Homo sapiens: one gene and its partners. The protein of the gene in region 4 purifies or fractionates together with the protein of the main gene of each other region. This does not show direct contact. Each region holds a gene or a part of one and is shown on either strand. Other genes may lie near its edges.

Region 1 (3,296 bases), on a different chromosome or scaffold from region 4:
CCATGGCAGGAGGTTGACTTGAGGCCAGGAGCTTGAGACCAGCCTGGGCAACTCAGTGACACCCCTTCTCTGCAAAAAAAATTTTAAAAATTAGCTGGGCATGGTGGCATGTGCCTATAGTCCCAGCTACTTGAGAGACTGAGGTGGGAGAATCACTTGAGCCCAGGAGGTCAAAATTGCAGTGAGCCGAGATCGTGCCATTGCACTCCAGCCAGGGCAACAGAGCGAGACCCTGTTTCTAAGAAAGACAAGAAGTGTGGTCTGGGGACCTGAAGCATCAGCATCGTCAGAGAGCTTGTTGGAAACGCAGAATTGCTGGCCTCACCCCAGGCCCAAATCTGCATTTTAACAAGATCTCCTCGTGACCTGTGGCATATTAAAGTTTGATAAGCACTGGATTAAACAAGCAGGGAACAGGACTTGGCTCCAGGATGCCGTTGTGACTTCTGTTTCAGGATAAGCCACACCTGCTAAGCCCTAGCAGTGACCTAAGTCCATGATTCAGAATCCACACACCACCTGGTGGCTCCTTTTATTATATCAATTTATTCAAGTGATTAAAAAACTTCTTGGCAGCAGGATGACAAAACAGGTCTGTAAACATGATCTCATCCCCCCATCCCTTCTTCCAAGGAGCTTCCTATGACAGGAAATCGAATTCTAGTTGGCAAATCCAGTGATGAGGTCTGTAGAAAAGGGGTCCCGTGTCACAGCCAGGAAGGCAGACTCGTCCCTTTAACCCACTCCAGCCAGGGGTGCTGGCCAGGATGTGCTGTTCTGTCATGACGTGGTCACTGAGTCTGGTTCGTTGGCAGCCCCTTCCCCAGGAGGAGGGAGACTCTTTGGCAGTGCGGCAGCCCTCCCGGGGGCACGGGCTTCTCGGCAGCAGACACAGGCAGGCCAGAAGCAGGCAGCTGAGCCTCTCCAGCGAGCATGGTATTGCTAGGGTTGCAGGTGCCCTGGCAGGTGGCCAGGTGAGGGGCTGAGGCACAAGTGCTATCAGGAACTTGGCTGCCCCACAGGGGCTGAGGACACCCAGATGGTCCACGCCAGTGGCCTTGAAATTTCCCCTGCAGAAGCCAGACCGTGGGGAAACAAGCTTTCGCGACGTGCCACCCCGGGCAGCTTGAGGCTTCAGTCCTTGAAGGGGTTGTGGGCGCCCCCTGGCTGCTCCTTCTCTGCGGCCAGAGGCTCCCCGTTCATCTCCTGCAGCGGGTGGTATGCATAGTCCCCATGCAGGCGCCGGTTCCTCTCTGCTCTGGACAGGAGCAAGGACAGGTTTGCTGCAGTGCTGATCAGCAGGAGGAAGGCCAGCGCCAGGGTGAGGGCTAGCCAGGCGGTCCTGCAGACAGGAGAGAAGCCCCAAGTGGGGGACTGCTGGGTGGGCTCAGGGCTTGGGTAGCACTGGAGGGGCTTCCCTCTACCCGGCATAGATAGCACTAAATCAGGTGCCTCCAGGGACCACACAGGGAATGTTATGAGCAAAATGGACTAGGTGGGGATGGGGCAACATTTAAGACATGTGCAGGGAACAGCAGAGGCAGTCATGACGTACAATGCAGGTCCGTGCTGCCCCATCTCCTGATTTTTTTTTTTTTTTTTTGAGACAGAGTCTCGCCCTGTCATCCAGGCTGGAGTGCAGTGGCATGATCTCAGCTCACTGCAATCTCCGCCTCCTGGCTTCAAACGATTCCCCTGCCTTGGACTCCCGAGTAGCTGGGACTACAGGCTCGAATCACCACGCCTGGCTAATTTTCGTATTTTCAGTAGAGACCAGGTTTCACCATGTTGGCCAGGCTGGTCTTGAACTCCTGACCTCAAGTGATCCACCTGCCTCGGCCTCCCAAAGTGCTAGGATTACAGGCGTGAGCCACCACGCCTGGCCTGATATTTTAAGAGAAGCCATTAAAAAGGTTTTTAAGGCTGGGCGTGGTGCTCATGCCTGCAATCCCAGCACTTTGTGAGGCTTAGGCGGGCGTATCACTTGAGGTCAGGAGTTCAAGACCAGCCTGGCCAACATGGCGAAATCCTGTCTCTACTAAAAATATGAAAATTAGCCGGGCACCTGTAATCCCAGCTACTCAGGAGACTGAGGCAGGAGAATTGCCTGAACCCAGGAGGCGGAGGTTGTGGTGAGCTGAGATCGCACCACTGCACTCCAGCCTAGGCAACAGAGTGAGACCCCGTCTCAAAAAAAAAAGTTTAAAAAAATGTGAATGTTACTGATTTTTAGATGCTGCTGATATATTTTAACTTTTTAAAAATTATGTAAGCCAAATAAAACACAGCTGGATGCTGGGCATGGGGGCTGGGAGGCCAAGGTGGGAGGATCACTTGAGCCCAGGACTGTGCACCTCGTCTGTGCAAAATAGTGAGATCCTATCTCTAAAAAACAGTAAGAAATAAAATTAGCCGGGCATGGGGGCACGTGCCTGTCGTCCTAGCTACTTGGGAGGCTGAGGCGGGAGGATCGCAGTGAGCTGACTGTACTACAGCACTTCTGCCTGGGTGACAGAATGAGGAAACCTCCTGCCCCCACCCTGGGATCTCATCTAGCCCAGTTTGCATTCTGAGCTCCAGTGGGGGATGCTGACAACAGAGGCTGGGCACTCGAAGGCCCTGGGCTCTGCTCCAGGGTCCCCAAAGCAGACAGTGGGGAGAGCTGGTCCCGCTTCCTCTAAGGCAGGGAGCTGGCAGGGGACAAGGGCAGAGATGGACCTCACAGGGGAAGGGTGCGGGAGAGAAGGGGGATTCCTCCCGCCCTGGCCCCAGCTCCCACAGAAGCACCTACCTGGTGAAAAAGGAGAGTTCTCCCGCCCTCAGGGTGGCTTCAGGTGGCTGGAGACACTGCTTTACTGTAACATACCAGAGACAGGCTGAAGGGGCCGGAGCAGGAGCGTCTGCCCATACCCCTCCCCTTGGAGGGATAGGTACCTCTGGAGACGCTGCAGTTGCCAGTCTTGGGGTCACAGGGACAATGGTGCTCACACTTACAAGGCCTCTGGCAGCCCGGCCCATGCCAGCCAAGGGGACACTCTATGGAAAGGAGATGGGAGGAGGGAGGAGGGAGGAGAAAGGTTGGGGCCTCCAGTGTCAGAGCCTTTCTCGACAGGACAGGATACCTGCCCCTGCCCATGTGTACAGAGCCGGGCTAAAGGTGAAGCACCCCCTGCCCTCCCTGGACTAGCCCCTGAACGTGACCTTATTTGGAAGCAGAATCTCTACAGAGGCACTGCAGTTAGGATCTCAAGATAAGACCGTGCTGGATTTGAGGTGGGCCCTGGAGCCAGAGCCCG
Region 2 (3,500 bases), on a different chromosome or scaffold from region 4:
ATGAAAAGATAACCAACAAGTAAAACAATTTGCACTACCTAAAAGCACTAGGCATATTATTTTGTCAAAAGTTACTGAGGAGTGGATAATTAATTGACTGTATTGATTGATTGTATCCATGATTTTTATTTTACTATAGTAAATGAAAATACATTAGTTACTAGTTTCATGGAATATTCTCTACAACCAGGAAATCATCTCACTTAATATTTTCTTATATCTTCAAAGTCTTATGTTACAGAAAATACATTAAAATAAACAACTGAAATTGCTTATGACCTTCCTCTAAGGAAAACCATGGGAAACTGCAATTCAGAGGTTCCAGGAAGTGTTCTGAGAAAGGAAACAGCATACCTGCAAACATCAGCTCTGAAACGTCAGGTTTGACATGAAGACAGGTGAAAAGAGGTAAAGGGCATTGTGCAGTATTAACTTTTTCCTTCAAACTGCTCAGAGTAGTATTCATTCTCTGTCCACAGAAGAAAGAAAAAGATGACTTTAAATTTATAAACAGACACAGAAAGAATGCTATTCAAAATAGTACTTCCAATCAAAATCTTATAACTTTATAATAAAAATAAGTCTTATTACTTCTAGAAATTACTAGGTCCTGAATGAACAACAAAAAATAAGCTCTATGGAAGTAACTATCTTCATTTAAAAAATAATCATAACTCTAGATTATATGTCTACATCTGAACTGGAGAATGAATTAGCAACTGTGGAGCCTGGAAGAAACTTAGCCCCTGGACTCCCTGTCACAGGCGCTCCTCTGCTTTATCTTCAACGAAACATCAATGCAATCATGCATCAAGCGAGTCTGTTCTATGCGATCCCCTTCCTTTCTTGACTCTATTCAGGCAAACTTCATTCTTCCTCATCTAAAAATGTTACCATTCTTGGAGGGAATGGGCAGTTAAGGGTTAAAATGTGAATTTTTTTTTTTTTTTTTTTTTCCAGAGAAAAGGAATACAAAAGCACTTCCTCACACATTCAAAATCTTTACATCATTGAAATGAATTAGTAAGCACTAGTTTGAAAGGTAGAAGAATTATAATCTCTGGTGGGGAGAATGGGCTCAGTACGCATAGTTGGACAAATAAGTAGAGTCCACTGACTTTTATAAAATGTATTACATTTTCTTTTATTTAAAATATAATATTATAATATGTTCTGTCTACTTGTTATAAAAGCAGTGTAGATTGAACTGTAACTTACATTATGAATTAGTGTTTCTCCTATTAACATCCCAAAGATATCAGTAAAGGTGACAGGTTGTCCAGAGCTTTTCTTCTTCCATAAAGACTCAACATATCTTTTAACTTTCTGTGGTGTGAGAAGTAAAAGGGGATTGTGGCTAACATTTTTCATTAGTTCTTCATTAATCTCCTCTGGCCCTTTCTCTGGAAAATCAGGGTGAGAATACAAGGTTGACATATACCTATACAGAAAACAAAACACAATCAGTAAAGATAAAGAGCATTACACAACAGTCTCCAAAGAAAGAAGGCACACTCTGTAAATAAAGCATGGTGGACATATTTGGTTAACTTCATTATCTGATTGCAGATATTAAAACATTTAAGAAAAGAATGTGTCAATCAGACAGGAGCTAGTCTACCATGAAGGTAAAGAAAAAAAGAGGTGTCAGAGGAAACACTGAACTTTCATCCACAGTCCAAGAGAGAAGGTGCCCTACTAGGACTAGTGTCCATTGTCTGGTGTGCCAGGAATGGAGTATCTCTATCAGAGTATTAGAGATTGATGACAGAGCACATCTGAGTCATGTAAATGAATTGACTTGTCTGGCTCCAAGACTAGTCAAGCAATCTGATCATCTAAATTTCCAGGATGATTATCTACAGGTAGAAAATATGTTGTCCCAACTATTGTAAATTCCTAATTCCCTTGAAAAATCCTTTTTTCTCCTTAATTATCCATTGGCCAACTAGACAAAAATCTCAAATCTTGTCAACTGTAGGTCTCTAAATTTCTGAACATATGAATCTGAAGGCAAAATCCTAAAGAGAAATAAAGTCTTTAAAGTAAATGCTTTCTTACGAAGCCTCTTGTCTGCCAGCCATTTGGCCACTTCTGGTAAAACTGGAAATCACCATGAGCCTTGATATTTGATATCTAGATAATAAAAATTTAGTTATGGTGCTCCTACCTGTGAACCAATACCTCTAGTATGGTAGATCTCATGCTGACTATTAATTACTCGTTTACTTATCTGTTTCCCTCAAGAAATTGTGTCCTCCTCCTTCAGGAAATAAACTTTGTTTATTCATCTTTTTTAGCCTCAGTGACTAGCTAATGTCTGGCATATGACAAGCACAGCTTAGGAAACTCACAGAACAAAATAAAAATAGAATATGTAAACATTCCATCACTTCATCCAACCAAGGAGAAAATAGCACATGTTTTAATCTCTTATTTCCTTGGGATTCAAATCAAAATGTCTACTATAATGGTTATCGTCCCTTCGAGGGGAGAAAACTAATTCTTCTTAGGCCCCTACTATATTCTGGGCACTGTGTTGGTTAATTGTTCATAAGCTGTTGTCTTGAAGACTCACGGTGGCTTTCAAATATTCTATTTTAATTATCAAGAAAAAGAGCATTGGGAAATTTAAATAACATGCTCATATTCCCCAGTTTATAACAGCAGAACTGGAATTCAAAATTTATCCTCTCCCCAGTAGGCTATTTTTTTTTTAGTCTATTATACAAGACTTCAGTTGTTAGAGACCAAACTATTCCTATTTCACAATAAATTATAATTCCTTATTGGGTTTGAGTTCCTTGGAGACAAGCTGAGAATAATAATCAGTTAATAAATGGAGGGTAACAGACCCACAATGGATCACATGTGCAGAAAAAAAAAACTTTAAATGATTTTTGTACAACAAATTGAATTTGAAACAGTTCCCTCAACATGTGATAATGATAAATCAAATAGACTTGCTCAACTCAACTTAGTATAATCACGAAATATCTATAAAAATGCAGCTTTGAATACTTGAAAGATACACAGTTCATTTATTCCTATAGTTATTCCAAAGTCTACCATGTGATTCATCCAAATCAAAAAAGATATGATATTCTGGACCTTCTCATACTTTTAATAAATGCACAATGTACTCTCTGAAGATTGAAGTAATCTGGTGTTCTCTCTCTCTCTCTCTCTCTCTCTTTTCCCGTCTCATGAAGCAGTTGGCTTGGAAATACAAACCCTGGCGAGAAACAGAAAAACCTAGAATACTTCAACCATTGGCATTGGATTAATGGTCTCTGCTTGTTCAGCATTTATGACACATATTCCTTAGAATTCACAAGGAGAGTTGGATAATCTTTTCATGGTGTCCCTGCAGTTACATCTAACTGAGTGAGATTATCTCAAAAAATAAAAAAAAAAAAACATAAAAGTATCACCCCAGTTTTTAACTCTATAGTTAAGCCTTAATTTTCATCTCTTTACCAATAATGTTTCCCAATTAT
Region 3 (3,500 bases), on a different chromosome or scaffold from region 4:
GGACACAGGAGCTGGGATCAGATCCTTCATTCAAGATTAGATGACTGCTTTGCTGAAAATCCAACCACATGGAGTTATGTAGTCATTCAGGAGTATGTTCTTGTTTACTTTTTAAAACATTTTTTTAAAAGATTTAACCAATTGTTGCACAGTAGCCTGTGGTGTCCAATGGCACCTATAATTTATTTCACCTTACTGATCTGGTTTTAAGAAGAATGGCCAGCTGGATGTGGTGCCTGAAGCCTGTAATCCCAGCACTTTAGGAGGCTGAGGCAGGTGGATGGCTTGAGCCCAGGAGATTGAGACCAGCCTGGGCAACATGGCAAAACCTAGTCTCAACAAAAGATACAAAAATTAGCCAGGCATGGTAGCATGTTCCTGTAGTCCTAGCTACTCAGTAGGCTGAGGCAGGAGGATTGCCTGAGCCCCAGCAGGTCGAGGCCGCAGTGAGCTGTGATCGCACCACCGCACTCCAGCCTGGTTGACAGAGAAAAACCCTGTCTCAAACAAAAACAAACAAACACACAAACAAAAAAAGATAAAAGATAAATGGCCTTAGGGGAACAGATATAAAAACATAGGATTTTTCACTGCTAGTTTGGGGAAGGAGTTTTTTTACTCCCAGCCCAATCATAAGGGTGAGACAAGAGGGCTATGTCTATGTTACCACTCTGATTGTCTTTTTCCAGAATTCCAGTTGCCCATGATGTCACAGGCTGAGGCCCACACTCCAGAGACACTGTGGACTGACTGGCACCTATGAGCTGACCTAATAACAGTTACACCATTACAGCTCCGATTCTACAGAACAATACATATCCAGTTCTTATCTATGCTTTGCATGTGCTCTTTGAAACACAACCCTTCCCTAAACAGAATTCTCTACCTGTTACCATATCTAGAGTGTAGGGCTCAGGGAAGACAGTAAAGGACACAGACTCTGAGAAATGAACATGAACTAGGGCTTAGATGAATAAATGGAGCTACAACAATAGTTATATTTTAGTGCAACTTCTGAAAATTAAACTAAAGGATCCACGGGTGTGGAAGACACAATACCAGGGTGTGAGTCAGGGGATGAGTGCTCAAGAATGTTCTGTGTTTCCCAAATCCACTATATGAATGGCACGACCACTTTCCCAGGCAACTCAGTCTAAAACACTAGTTAGTTCTAACTTCTCACCTCCACGCAGTCACTTCCTAATCCCACCTCTACGGCCTCTTTTATTATGCCTCTCTTTTCCCCTCGCCTTCCCCTTGTCAAGCTTTCCTCCCTGCCACACTCTAGTTCCTCCTCAGCACCTCCAAGCCAGCTGATTGCAACAGGCTCCTAACAGAGCTTCTGACCTCCAGAATGAGCAACACAAGCCAAAAGATCTAGGTCCAATTCTCGTCCCAACACTCACTAATTTGATCAATTTGTATAAAAAAATCATTTATCTCTCTGAGCCTATTTTATTTCTCTGTGAAACAGGAAAATAAAAGATACTTCAACCAGGCGCGGTGGCTCACACCGGTAATCCCACCACTTTGGGACGCCGAGGCAGGCGGATCACGAGGTCAGGAGATCGAGACCATCCTGGCAAACATGGTGAAACGCCATCTCTACTAAAAATACAATAATTAGCTGGGTGTGGTGGCACGTGCCTGTAATCCCAGCTACTCAGGAGGCTGAGGCAGGAGAATCGCTTGAACCAGGTAGTCGGAGGTTGCAGTGAGCCAGATTATGCCACTGCACTCCAGCCTGGCAACACAGTGAGACTGTGACGATGAAGAGACAACAGCTATGATAGCCCTTTGTCAGGCATAGGACACTGTGCAAATGATGGTGATGTTTTACTTGATCAGCATCCATCTGATACTCTGAAGCATAAGTCAGAACATGGCACTCTTTTCTGTAAAACTATTCAATGATTCCCCCATGACTGTAGAATAAAGTCCAAATTATTTGCCAAGATTCTTCACAATCCAGTTCCAACTATCTTCCCAGCTGCATTTTTGCTCCTCACACTGTCTAACTCAACCATCAAGAATTAGCTCAAAAGGTACCTCTTCCAAAACCCAACCCTGACCTTTCCAACCAGAAAGAATCTCTTTTTTTCCCCTCAAGTACTGGGGCCCTTTCTATGAACTTTTCCTCCAGGGCATTCATTTGTCACTTTCTACTTCAGACTCATCTATTTATAGCTACCGCTTATTAAGGCCATACTACATATCCCAATGTTGTGCTAGACCCTTGCATCTATTTCTTCTGAACAAAATAGCAACTCTCAAAATAGCAATGGAATTAATCCCATTTAGTTGACAAAACTGATGCTACCAAGTTGCAAGAGGAAATTCAAGGACAAGGATAAATTTCAAAGCTCATGTTTTTCTATGATGCCTGTTGTCTTCCATGGCCTTGTTTATGGTCCTTGACTTACGATCTGATTGGACTCTTGAATCCTTTTTTAGTAGATTCAGTCTGATTTATCTTTGGTATCCCTCACAGACCCAGCACAGAACTATGCATAGAAGATGCTCAATGCTTGTTAAGCAAATAATTGGCTTCTTTTGACCTCTATGGGTCTCAGGTCCTCAGCTATAAAATTGGTAGTATCAAAGAGCTGGTCATATACTGTGTAGAGATCGACTTATTTGTAAATGTTTCCAGAACACTTATGTGCCAGGCACTGTTCTAAGCATCTCATCTATCGATCCTCATAAAAAGCCTCCAAGAAGTATGACTATTAAGCCCATTTTATACTTTAGAAAACTAAGTTTTTAAGCAGGGTGGCAAAACTTGAACCCAGGCAGACTGTGTCCAGAACCCACATTCTCAACCAATATGCACTACTGCCTACATAAATTTGGAGCCCAGGAAAATCAACTGAAAAACCATTAGAAATGGCAATAGACTCAAAACATGGTTGGTACCAGAATTAATATGTAAAAATAATATATAATATACATAGCAAGTATATATACACATGTACTATATATATGCATTACATATCCATATCTGTATCTATATTATCTATATTATAATGACTGCTTTCATGTACATGATCACCAATGAACTAAGGGAGTAAAAGATCCCAGTCAAAAGGGAAAAAAATAAGCAACTCAAATATCTAGAAATAAATTTCAGAAATATGCAGAATATACACACATACTACAAAATTCTACCAAAGGGTAATTAAAAAGTCATTAATAAACAGAAAAATAATGCTTAGGTGGAAAGACTTGGTAATAGAGCTCCCTTTCTCCATAATTAATCTCTATATTTAACATCTGAATTTAATTTACTTCGAGGGAGTGTCACAGTTCAACAACTAGGCACTTTAATATAAATTGGTGCAATCTTTGGAGGAAATGTTGGGGTGTTGGGGCAGTATCTATAAAAATTTTATAAGTGCATCCCCTTTGACATAACGATCCTACTTCTAGGAATCTACTCTGCAGAAATGCCAACACATGCTACCAAAGATGGATAAGAAATGTTGAGTGCTGTTTTGTAT
Region 4 (3,500 bases):
CACAGTTTATTTTATCTACAGAATTTTAGGCTGTCACTCTCTGGATCTCTCCCTTCCAAGATTCCTCCTCCCCTTACATTCCACTGACTCAGTGGTTGTGGCTGACCCAAATGCTGTCCACTGCTTAGGTTTTCTATGAAGGTTTAAGCCAGCCTGTCAGGTGCCCACTTCAGCCTGTCCTCTAGCTAAAAGCAGTAAAAATAAAAAACTAATTTCATGCTGTCTCTTCTTACATGTGTCAACTCTCTTTCAGAATCTGACTGCTCCCGTTCATCCTCCAGTGCCTTCGGGTCTTTGTTTTTTAAAAATTTTGTCCAGTTATATGCAGGAAGGTCAGGTCCAGTAAAAGCCTACTTGGCCATAAGAAAAGAAAACCATTCTGACATTGCTTTTAAAAATTACTTCAGATTCCCTGTATATGTAGGTATATAGATTCATTTTTTTTCTTTATGGAATCTTTCTAGCATAGATTCACTTTAAATGATACCAAGATAGGAATTATTTTGTATTCCTTGTTTGGTAACTCTTTTCATTCCACTTTAGCACCCACCATCTGCTGGGTGCTGAACAATGTAGTTTTTACTAATAAATTACGAACATTTTTACATAACAGAAGACACTAACTTTGACAGTAACTAGAAAAATAAGGCACAGAGCTAGAAGTGAAACTGATAAGCAGTAGCACCCTAACGCTGGGGAAATAGTCACATATGTGTAAAAACAGACAAGTATAACAACGTTAACTTAAGGCCGGGCGCGGTGGCTCATGCCTGTAATTCCAGCACTTTGGGAGGCCGAGGCGGGCGGATCACGAGGCCAGGAGATTGAGACCATCCTGGCTAACACAGTGAAACCCCGACTCTACTAAAAATACAAAAATAAAATTAGCTGGGCGTGGTAGCAGGCGCCTGTAGTCCCAGCTACTCAGGAGGCTGAGGCGGGAGAATGGCATGAACCCGGGAGGCGGAGCTTGCAGTGAGCGGAGATTGCACCACTGCACTCCAGCCTGGGCGACAGAGTGAAACTCCTCCATCTCAAAAAAGAAAAAGAAAAAGGAAAAAAAAAAAGAAGAATGTTAACTTCAGCGCTGTCTATAATAGCAAAAAATAGGAAAGAATCTAAATCCTTACCAAAAGAAAATAATATATTCATATAATGGATTACTACATAGCTGTTAAAATGAATAAATTATATAAATTCCAACATGAAAGAAGTTTAAAAACCTAATGTTGAATGGAAAACGTTATACAACAAACATGATAACATGAATGAATGGTTAAAAAGCATAAAACAATACAAACACATTTATTTAAAATAAACTGGAAGGATGTACCAGGTCCATGACGGTGTTACGTCTGGGGAAGGGGAGATGGAGGGCGTGGCCAGGTGGTAATCAAAGAGTCCTTTAGTTTGGAAGCAAATATGACTACCAATGCTAACAATTAACATAAGTTAATTCTACATATAGAGAAGATATGGGTGTAGGCTGCCTTTGTACTTTTCTATATTTTTCCATTTCTTAAAAAAAAAAAAAACAAAACTTTAACAACTTCAATGACTGTGTAATATTCGATTGCACAGTTATACCATAATATACTCAACCAATCTCTAATTGTTAAGACACCGAGATATCTGCCACTATCATAAACTGTGCTATAATGAACATCTGTGTAGTTATTTTTGCACATTTTTAAAAAAGGATAAATTCCAGCTGGGTTCCGTGGCTCACGCCTGTAATCTCAGTATTTTGGGAAGCCAAGGCGGGCGGATCACGAGGTCAGGAGTTCGAGACCAGCCTGGCCAATATAGTGAAACTCCGTCTTTACTAATAATACAAAAAATTAGCCGGGCGTGGTGGCAGGCACCTGTAATCCCAGCTACTTGGGAGGCTGAGGCAGGAGAATCGCTTGAACCCGGGAGGTGGAGGTTGCAGTGACCCGAGATCGTGCCATTGCACTCCAGCCTGGGCAACACGGTGAGACTCTGTCTTTAAAAAAAAAAAAAAAAAAAAAAAAGGGCCGGGCACGGGTGGCTCACGCCTGTAATCCCAGCACTTTGGGAGGCCGAGGTGGGCAGATCACCAGGTCAGGAGATTGAGGCCATCCTGGCTAACATGGTGAAACCCCGTCTGTACTAAAAAATACAAAAAATTAGCCGGGCGTGGTAGCAGGCGCCCGTAATCCCAGCTACTCGGGAGGCTGAGGCAGGAGAATGGCGTGAACCCGGGAGGCAGAGCTTGCAGTGAGCCGAGATTGCGCCACTGCACTCCAGCCTGGGCGACAGAGCGAGACTCTGTCTCAAAAAAAAAAAAAAAAAAAAAAAAAAAGAATTCCTAAAAACAAGATTGCTAGGGCAGTTCTAGGTCTGTTACATATTGCCAACTGCCTTCCAGAAAGGCTGTAACAATTTACATGTACTTCACCAAACTATATGCTTATTTCCTTGCATCCTGCCAATCTGGATACTAAAACACAAAAAACTATCTTCACTACACTAGGTATGTGAGAGGCAGGGATCTGATTTTCTTCCCCAAACTATGAGAGTCTATCATAACTTAATTACTCAGCAACCAACTATAATATGATAAAGGCTTCATTACAAGCTGTTACATAATATACCATAAAATAGCAAAAACAAACAGAAAACCACTAATTCTTTCATTGTTTCTTTTGCCTATTTTCCCAAACAACTTAAGGCAGAATATAATTAAAGCACTGTTTTTACCTTAGAAAGGAAGAATATGCAGATACACGTATTTAAAACTAGACAATCGGCTGTGTGTGGTGGCTCAGGCCTGTAAATCCCAGCACTTTGAGAGGCCAACGCAGGCGGATCACTTGAAGCCAGGAGTTTGAGAGACCAGCCTGGCCAACATGGTGAAACCCCATCTCTAGTAAAAATACAAAAAATTAGCTGGGCGTGGTGGCACACGCCTGTAATCCCAGCTACTCGGAAGGCTGAGGCAGGAGAGTCGCTTGAACCCTGGAGGTGGAGGTTGCAGTGAGCCGAGATCGCGCCACTGCACTCCAGCCTGGGCAACAGAGTGAGACTCTGTCTCAAAAAATTAAAAAAAAAAAAAAAAAGATAAATAAATAAAACTAGACACTGATGCATTTTACTGAAATGGTTTATGTTTTTATTTATTTATTTCACTGCAATGAAATGGATTATATTTTTAAAGATTTATTCATAAATAAGACAATTTTAAAAGGTTTTCACTTTTGAAAGCTGCAAGAAAGGCCTTTAAACTTCTTGGTCTAACTATACCGGTCTTCTTTAATTACAATCTAAAAACATACACTAATCATAGACTTTGGTCAGTGACAAATATCCTGAACTTCCATAGCCCTTTACATCTCTCACGCTAGATTAAATAATTCAGTTGATAATCACTAATAATTAGCATTTACACAGCACTTTATTTACTGCAACATACAAAGCAGGGCAAAATAATGATCATCACATTAACAAAGGAAGATGCTGAACCAATTAGACTAGTC

The links. The genes of interacting proteins can lie anywhere in the genome.
Region 1: the proteins of RTN3 (region 4) and NAGPA purify together in Homo sapiens (affinity purification with mass spectrometry; one large-scale study listed by BioGRID and IntAct). This does not show direct contact.
Region 2: the proteins of RTN3 (region 4) and PLA2G4A fractionate together in Homo sapiens (co-fractionation; one large-scale study listed by BioGRID). This does not show direct contact.
Region 3: the proteins of RTN3 (region 4) and PGAP4 purify together in Homo sapiens (affinity purification with mass spectrometry; one large-scale study listed by BioGRID and IntAct). This does not show direct contact.

The regions. Positions count from the first base shown.
Region 1 is NC_000016.10:5,024,344-5,027,639, forward strand, and holds the end of NAGPA (N-acetylglucosamine-1-phosphodiester alpha-N-acetylglucosaminidase precursor), read right to left. Parts: intron 3,037-3,296; coding exon 2,935-3,036; intron 2,856-2,934; coding exon 2,792-2,855; intron 1,343-2,791; coding exon 1,135-1,342; 3' UTR 501-1,134; downstream 1-500. UniProt on the Homo sapiens protein: Catalyzes the second step in the formation of the mannose 6-phosphate targeting signal on lysosomal enzyme oligosaccharides by removing GlcNAc residues from GlcNAc-alpha-P-mannose moieties, which are formed in the first step.
Region 2 is NC_000001.11:186,936,949-186,940,448, reverse strand, and holds part of PLA2G4A (cytosolic phospholipase A2), read right to left. Parts: intron 1,442-3,500; coding exon 1,219-1,441; intron 470-1,218; coding exon 355-469; intron 1-354. UniProt on the Homo sapiens protein: Has primarily calcium-dependent phospholipase and lysophospholipase activities, with a major role in membrane lipid remodeling and biosynthesis of lipid mediators of the inflammatory response.
Region 3 is NC_000009.12:101,480,674-101,484,173, forward strand, and holds part of PGAP4 (GPI-N-acetylgalactosamine transferase PGAP4), read right to left. Parts: intron 834-3,500; exon of another isoform or gene 690-833; intron 53-689; exon of another isoform or gene 1-52. UniProt on the Homo sapiens protein: Golgi-resident glycosylphosphatidylinositol (GPI)-N-acetylgalactosamine transferase that catalyzes the N-acetyl-beta-D-galactosamine transfer from an UDP-N-acetyl-alpha-D-galactosamine to the 4-OH-position of the first mannose of the glycosylphosphatidylinositol (GPI) of a GPI-anchored protein (GPI-AP).
Region 4 is NC_000011.10:63,723,000-63,726,499, reverse strand, and holds part of RTN3 (reticulon-3), read right to left. Parts: intron 351-3,500; coding exon of another isoform or gene 334-350; exon of another isoform or gene 1-333. UniProt on the Homo sapiens protein: May be involved in membrane trafficking in the early secretory pathway. Inhibits BACE1 activity and amyloid precursor protein processing. May induce caspase-8 cascade and apoptosis.